Homo sapiens: one gene and its partner. The protein of the gene in region 2 purifies or fractionates together with the protein of the main gene of each other region. This does not show direct contact. Each region holds a gene or a part of one and is shown on either strand. Other genes may lie near its edges.

The links. Proteins that work in one complex are often made in the same cells at the same time.
Region 1: the proteins of TENT5A (region 2) and DCAF6 purify together in Homo sapiens (affinity purification with mass spectrometry; 3 studies listed by BioGRID and IntAct, with this or other methods). This does not show direct contact.

What each region holds. Positions count from the first base shown.
Region 1 is NC_000001.11:167,939,598-167,943,347, reverse strand, and holds part of DCAF6 (DDB1- and CUL4-associated factor 6), read right to left. Parts: intron 1-3,750. UniProt on the Homo sapiens protein: Ligand-dependent coactivator of nuclear receptors. Enhance transcriptional activity of the nuclear receptors NR3C1 and AR. May function as a substrate receptor for CUL4-DDB1 E3 ubiquitin-protein ligase complex.
Region 2 is NC_000006.12:81,750,974-81,754,723, reverse strand, and holds the start of TENT5A (terminal nucleotidyltransferase 5A), read left to right. Parts: upstream 1-2,042; 5' UTR 2,043-2,293; intron 2,294-2,545; 5' UTR 2,546-2,582; coding exon 2,583-3,134; intron 3,135-3,750.

The sequences.
Region 1 (3,750 bases), on a different chromosome or scaffold from region 2:
GAAATAATATATAGATTCAACACAAAATCCCAAGTCTTTTTGTAGAAATTGACAAGCTAGTTCTAAAATTTTTATGGAAATAGAAAGGGTTCAGAATAGCCAGGATAACTATAAATTTTTTTAAAAAAGACCAAATTTCGGCCAGGCGCGGTGGCTCACGCCTGTAATCCCAGCACTTTGGTAGGCCAAGGCGGGCAGATCACAAGGTCAGGAGATCGAGACCATCCTGGCTAACGCGGTGAAACCCCATCTCTACTAAAAAAATACAAAAAAATTAGCCGGGCGTGGTGGCGGGTGCCTGTAGTCCCAGCTACTCGGGAGGCTGAGGCAGGAGAATGGTGTGAACCCAGGAGGCGGAGCTTGTAGTGAGCCAAGATCGAGCCACTGCACTCCAGCCTGGGTGACAGAGCAAGACTCTGTCTCAAAAAAAAGACCAAGTTTAAAGTATCACACTAGCTGATTTCAATCCTCGGTATAAAGACATGAAGCTAGATCAATGGAATGTGGCTAGGAAATTGACTTAAACATTTATGGTCAATTGATTTTCAACAAAGGGAAAAAAGTAGTCTTTCCACACACTGTTAGATCAATTGCACATTAATATGCAAAGAAATGAAACTTGACTCTTACAACATATGTAAAACTTAACTCGAAATTGTTCACAGACCTAAATGTAAGAGGTAAAAAGATAAAATCTCCAGGAAAAAAAAAGTAAAAATCTTTGTTACCTTGGATTAGGTAAAGATTCTTAGATAGGACATAAAAAGTATGAACTATAAAAGAACCTGTTAAGAAAAAGACATAAACTGACAGAAAATATTTGTAAAGTACATATCTGATTAAGGACTGTTATATAAAGAATTATAGAATTCTTACAATATTAAAAAGGTAAACCTGAACATTTAACCAGACTATATGGATGACAAAAACAAAAGCCACAAAAGATACTCAACATCATTAACCACTAGAGAAATGCAAATTAAAGGCCAGGCGCAGCGGCTCATGCTTGTAATCCCAGCACTTTGGGAGGCCGAAGCAGGTCAATCACCTGAGGTCAGGAGTTCGAGACCAGCCTGACCAACATGGCAAAACCCCATGTCTACTAAAAATACAACATTAGCTGGGCATGGTGGCGCATGCCCATATCCCAGCTACTTGGCAGGCTGAGGCAGGAGAATCTCTTGAACCCAGCAGGCAGAGGTTGCGGTAAGCCAAGATCATGCCATTGCACTCCAGCCTGGGCGACAAGAGCGAAACTCCGTCTCAAAAACAAAAAAAGAGAAATGCAAATTAAAACAATGATATATTTCTACACGCCTACCATGAAGGCTACAATTAGGAAGACTCACTACACCAAATGCTGATGAGAATGTGGAGCAATTGGAACTCTCATATACTGCTGGTGGGAATGCAGTATGGTAGAATTACTTTGGAAGACAGTCTGGAAGTTTTTTATAAAGTTAAACATACTTACCATACAAGTCAGCAATCCCACAATAGATATCTATTTAAAAGTGTTCGACCCTAGTTATTTTGTCCAAGATGTACATGAAGTTTCACTATTTACATTTTCCCTGTGGAGCCATCAGCAGTGTTTAAAAAAAAATTTTTTTAATCTCCTTCAAGTACTTGGGGAAGCCTGCCCACCTTAAACCTGAAGCAACATTAAATTACAAGAACTACACACCATCTAGAACAATTTTCCAAACCTCAAGCTGAGACTCATTAGTGCGTACTCTACCAGTTCAACACCAACAGTTGTAACAATATGAAAAAAAACAGAATGCATCCCATCTAGTAAGGTTTATATATACACCTAGAGAATCCTTTATTTTCGTTGTGTATATCACAGGTTGCCACATAAATGTACTTTTATCATGGATCATTTTTAAAACATTTTAAAAACACTGACCTAAAGCATACTTGTAACATAAGCTCCATGCTACCAGAAGCTTCTAAACCTTCTAAGCACTTATAACTTGATTCATCCTATTTTAGGAAGCAATGAAACCCACAGTAGAGCTATCATAGTGTCTATGGTTGTTATGATTACTTATATGCCTTTGGTGTCCTGCCTTAAGGAATTATCAGTATATCTTACGTTTGTCACAATTGACCGTCATTTTTCAATACTAAAATCATACATTTTTCAGCTTTCACTGAAATTTCAAGACTAAAGAAACAAAATACAAATATTTCACTAACTTTTCCCCAATGGCTAAAAAAAGAGGCAAAAGTCAGAAGTTACTAATCTTCATATAATAAATACACTGTAACTTGGCAACATATTATGAAGAACCTGGTAATCTAGAATGCAGATGTATTCAAGATGCACTAAAGAGTAATCGACACGCAAAATTATCCATTTCAGTACATACTGACTCTAATGATATTCAAAGGACACTGACTTCATAAACTCCTTACAAAAAGATGAGATTCAATCTCCACTAAAAAATTGTCACTGGCTGCCTAATCATAATTTACACATTTTATACATTATAATAAATAACTCCCTTGAGAAGTACCTTAAAATTACTTTTTTATCAATTACTATCTTTTAATTTAGAAGGGTTAGAAAGTTGTAGGAGTGTCTGTCCAAAAGGAAAGAAATATGAGTAGAAACAAGCAATGTATTGAAATAAGTTTATTTTATTAACAATGTTTATCTTTACAAAACCGTATATATATGGGATAATAAAATCTGTGTGGCTAATAAATCACTGATTTCCAAAAGCACTACTCTACACCTAGTATACAGTAATTTGAGAAACTATTACATTTAAACATTTAAACCTACAGGTATCTCTGACTTTGATAATTATTCTTTAAAAAAAAAAAAAATTCCAGGAGGCTGAGGTGGGAGGATGGCCTTGAGCCCAGGACGTGGAGGCTGCAGTGAGCCATGAGGGTGCCACTGCACACCAGCCTGGGAGACAGAGCAAAACCCTGCCTCACCCTGCCCCCCGCCTCCCACCAAAAAAAAGAATCCTACATTGAAATTTAGATAGGGCTCACAAAGATTAAAATCCCTGGCCTATCCTCTAAATCCATGCTAGTCTAAAACAACACTCTGTTGGCCCAGGTGAATCTTGTGGATTTGGGAGCTCTAAGTAAACATATCTTTTAATCATAAATAACATCTGGGAAATTATTCATCTTCATTCCCACAACATAATAGGAAGTTTTCTGAAGTATAATTTTCTTTGATGGGAAGAAAGGAGATAATTAATCAGTTTAAGTAAAATCAATTACAAAGCTTGAATATTAACATTGAAAGGGCACATGCTATGGTGAAATAACTGGAAATGTAAAGGCTACAAGAAAAATTTATCTATTTGTTCTATCCCAATTTTACTATTTAGCAGTAATTCACTGCTAAAAAATCTGTAGAAATACAAATAATGAAAATGTATCAGAAAAATACTTAAATCTACAACCCTGTAGATAGACAATCGTAATGTTTAAATATTGAAGTCTTTTAAAAAAGGAATCTATTTCCTTAGGAAAATCCTAACTTGGAATTTGACTTTTAAAAGGAAGGCTTTATAAGTGTACCATACTTTATTTATTTATTTATTTATTTATGACGCAGAGTTTCCCTCTGTCGCCCAGGCTGGAGTGCAGTGGCACAATCTTGGCTCACTGCAACCTCCACTTCCCAAGTTCAAGCTATTCTCCTGCCTCAGCCTCCCAAGGAGCTGAGACTACAGGCGTACGCCACCACTCCCGGCTAATTTTTGTATTTTTAGT
Region 2 (3,750 bases):
GTTCAATAAGTTCCTGGTACTCATAAACCTTATCTCAAGGCACTACCAATCTCATTTATTAATCACGGGAGTGTACATATCCTTCCTCAAACATTCTCCAACTCCATACGCTTCCCTTTGTAGATAACGCTCTTCTCCTCTTTCCCCGACTACTGAAAGAACATCCATTCTTTCAAGATCCAGTCCAAATGACACCTTCTCGGGTGTCTCTCCGTTTCCTATGTAGTTAGCCCGCCACGCGATTGCGTCAGAATATACTTCTCTCATAATACATATGCAACTGAACCATAATTATGCACCTAGGTGCTATGCCCTCTAGATTACGTGAAATGTCATTCTTAAATCTTCAGCACTTAGCCTGTTGCCTGGCACGTAACAGGTCACTAAATGCTCTCTCTATACACATGCTCACACAAGAATATGCATATGTATATATATGTATAAAATGCCTGGTTAAGATAGATTCATGCGCCGATGGCTGGTCAGAGGAACACATGGGTGTGCTCTGAAGGAAGCGATGGCCCTATGCGGACAGGGTAGTTGTCCTAGAGTCCCCAGGCGCACCTCAGTGCTTAGGCGCAGCGCTGAGGGGATGGCCTCTGCCACAGAGACAGTCGGATTTCTCCATTTTGGGACGCAGCTCGGCAGGGCACCGGGAGGGGGCGGCGTTGTCACGCAGCTGGATGCTCCACGGGTGACACCCCCGCACCCTACCCCTCACCCCCGAGCCGCGCAGCTTGAGTGACTAGGCCGGGGCTCCCCCAGTTAGGAGGTGCGGGCTGTTTTTCCTCCCAGTCTGGGCGGGCAGGGCTGAGCAGGGTTTGGGGAGTATTCTGTGACCCTGGCATTCTCCCCTCTGCCCCACCTCAGCCCCCGGCAGCGTCTAGGCGCTGGGAAAGCTGCTCCGGGTTAGTTGATGGAGGCAGCGAGCTGCCGAAGAGACGGCCACAGCTTTCTAGCAAAGAGTGGTGGTGGCGCGAGTGAGCGTGCGTAGAATTAGCTCTGCCGAAGTCACCGAAGCTGGAGGAGAGAATTCATTTTATTCTTGAAACTCCTACTTTTACGTCTCGTGGAAAACCAAATCGTATTCCACTGACACTATGATGCACTTAAAATGGCCAAACTTTAGGGGGCCGCGAGGAACGCGCTTCGCCGCCTCCAATTTTGTCAGAGAACTCGCAGCAAAGGCACCGGACACCTAGCGGCCCTTTCCCTGGACTCCGGGGCAGCACGCACTCCCCGGGCGCGCTCTCTGCGCCCACTCGGCCCGCCCAGTCCTCGGCCATTGGCTGCTCGCCCGCGTCTGCTCCGTGACGCGCCCTGACCCCCGCGAAGTACTGGCCCCTTGGAGCCACTCGTGCGCAGGAGCCGCGCACGCCCGAGGCCCGTGGTGCCGCCCCCGCGCCTTCTCGGGCTCGCCCAGAGCTCCCCGGCGCGCTTCCCGAGGTTTCGAGAATCGAAACCCAGTTATCAACAAGCCCTTCCCACTCACGCGCCGTGACTGATTTGCGTGCAAGAGTGGACTCATGAGTCCACACTTGGATCGGGTTTATCAATGGAGTAAATGGTCTACCTAAAAACCGAGGTTTAAAAGAGCGGTCGTGAGGAACCTCCGGAGCCCAACCGTGATGATCTAAAGACGGGCTGAGTCCGCGAGAATTTTGGGAAGTTTCTGCAGTTGCAGGATTTTAGTCGTGATCTGGTTTTGATGACCACTTATGATTCCTGGGGCATTTAAAGTGTCTCCTCCTGGGGAAAATGAAAAGAGATTTGTGGGAGGGGGCGTACATAAATTAAATGTATGTATAAATACACGCATCTACGGGCGCACACAGTATCCGCACATACAGCCCAGGACCTCACGCTCACCGGCAGTCGTCCCGCACTAACTGCTGGGCTAGTCAGCTGCGTGCCCTGCGGGCGGGGGAGGGCAGAGGGGGCGGCGCCCTATGCAGATGAGGAGGGTGTGGCGAACGTGCCGCTCTGGGCCCCGGAAGCGCAGAGAAGCCCGGTATAAAAAAAGTACTGAAGACATTTTCCCCGCACAACTGCTAAAGCTCCAGAGACACGAGCGTGTGTGGCAGCAAGAGCCGCCAGTTCGGGACCACCGCAGCTGGGGTGGCAGCGGCGCAGGAGGGGTCGCGGGGAGGGAGTGGTGAGCGCAGGCGGCAGGGGTCTGGGAAAGACGAAGTCGCTATTTGCTGTCTGAGCGCGCTCGCAGCTCCTGGAAGTGTTGCCGCCTCTCGGTTTCGCTCTCGCTCGCTGCGCTCCTAGAAGGGGCGGCCGCCTCCAGGTGACACAGACGGGACTCTCGCTTGCGCTTTCCAGATGCATCAGAGATACTTTTGGTGCGGGGCTGCTCTGCGGGGCGCGGTGCGCGGCTGGGGACTGTAAGGGCCGGGGGAGGGAGTCTCCGAGGAGGCCCGGGGTCAGGGAACTATCGGGGGAGGGGGCGCTCTTTTCCTGGCGGGCCTCTGCTCTCCGCCGCCGCGCGTGCTCTCCGCCGCCGCGCGTCCTCACCGCGCTCCTTTCCCTTTCTTTTTAGGACTGACCAGGGCCAAGTGGCGCTCGGCGGGCACTACATGGCGGAGGGTGAAGGGTACTTCGCCATGTCTGAGGACGAGCTGGCCTGCAGCCCCTACATCCCCCTAGGCGGCGACTTCGGCGGCGGCGACTTCGGCGGCGGCGACTTCGGCGGCGGCGACTTCGGCGGTGGCGGCAGCTTCGGTGGGCATTGCTTGGACTATTGCGAAAGCCCTACGGCGCACTGCAATGTGCTGAACTGGGAGCAAGTGCAGCGGCTGGACGGCATCCTGAGCGAGACCATTCCGATTCACGGGCGCGGCAACTTCCCCACGCTCGAGCTGCAGCCGAGCCTGATCGTGAAGGTGGTGCGGCGGCGCCTGGCCGAGAAGCGCATTGGCGTCCGCGACGTGCGCCTCAACGGCTCGGCAGCCAGCCATGTCCTGCACCAGGACAGCGGCCTGGGCTACAAGGACCTGGACCTCATCTTCTGCGCCGACCTGCGCGGGGAAGGGGAGTTTCAGACTGTGAAGGACGTCGTGCTGGACTGCCTGTTGGACTTCTTACCCGAGGGGGTGAACAAAGAGAAGATCACACCACTCACGCTCAAGGTAACACCACCCGAGATGCACTTGGGTCCTGACCCAGTCTGGGCCGGGTGTGACGGGGAGCGGGCAGAGGGGCATCGGTTAAATGCCATGAATCTGTGGCCATCACGAGTTTGGGCGCGCGTTATTTCTTTGATTTTTGATTTTTTAAACCAGTAAACTGACGTGCGTGGACGGTGTTGAGTGTTTCAGTTTACTTGATGCTTTGGCGCTACAACTCTTCTCCCAGGTCCTCCTCTGCCCTCTCTTCTCTTCTTTCTCCTTATGTTTTAACTCTTGGCTTTCCCTGTTGGAGTCTTGTCCAGAGTAGATTCTGATACTTGGCAGAATGAAATGATGTAAATAATTTTTGAGTCATTATATTTGAGTCTAGCCTTTGGGAAAATAACAGCCTGAAGCAGAAGTGAGTCAATGAGTTTTTTATTGTACTGGAAAAGGTGAATAGATTTCACAGCGGCATTCAGCTGACTACGTGTTAAAGGTCTATCTGGTGGTTCTTCGTGCTGGTTCATATGTTAAGGGTATAGTGGCACCCCCTCCCCACCCTCCACTTTAGTTCAAGACGGGTTTTATATGATTAGTTAAAATTGTCTGAGGAGGCAGGCTCCTGGAATGTCAT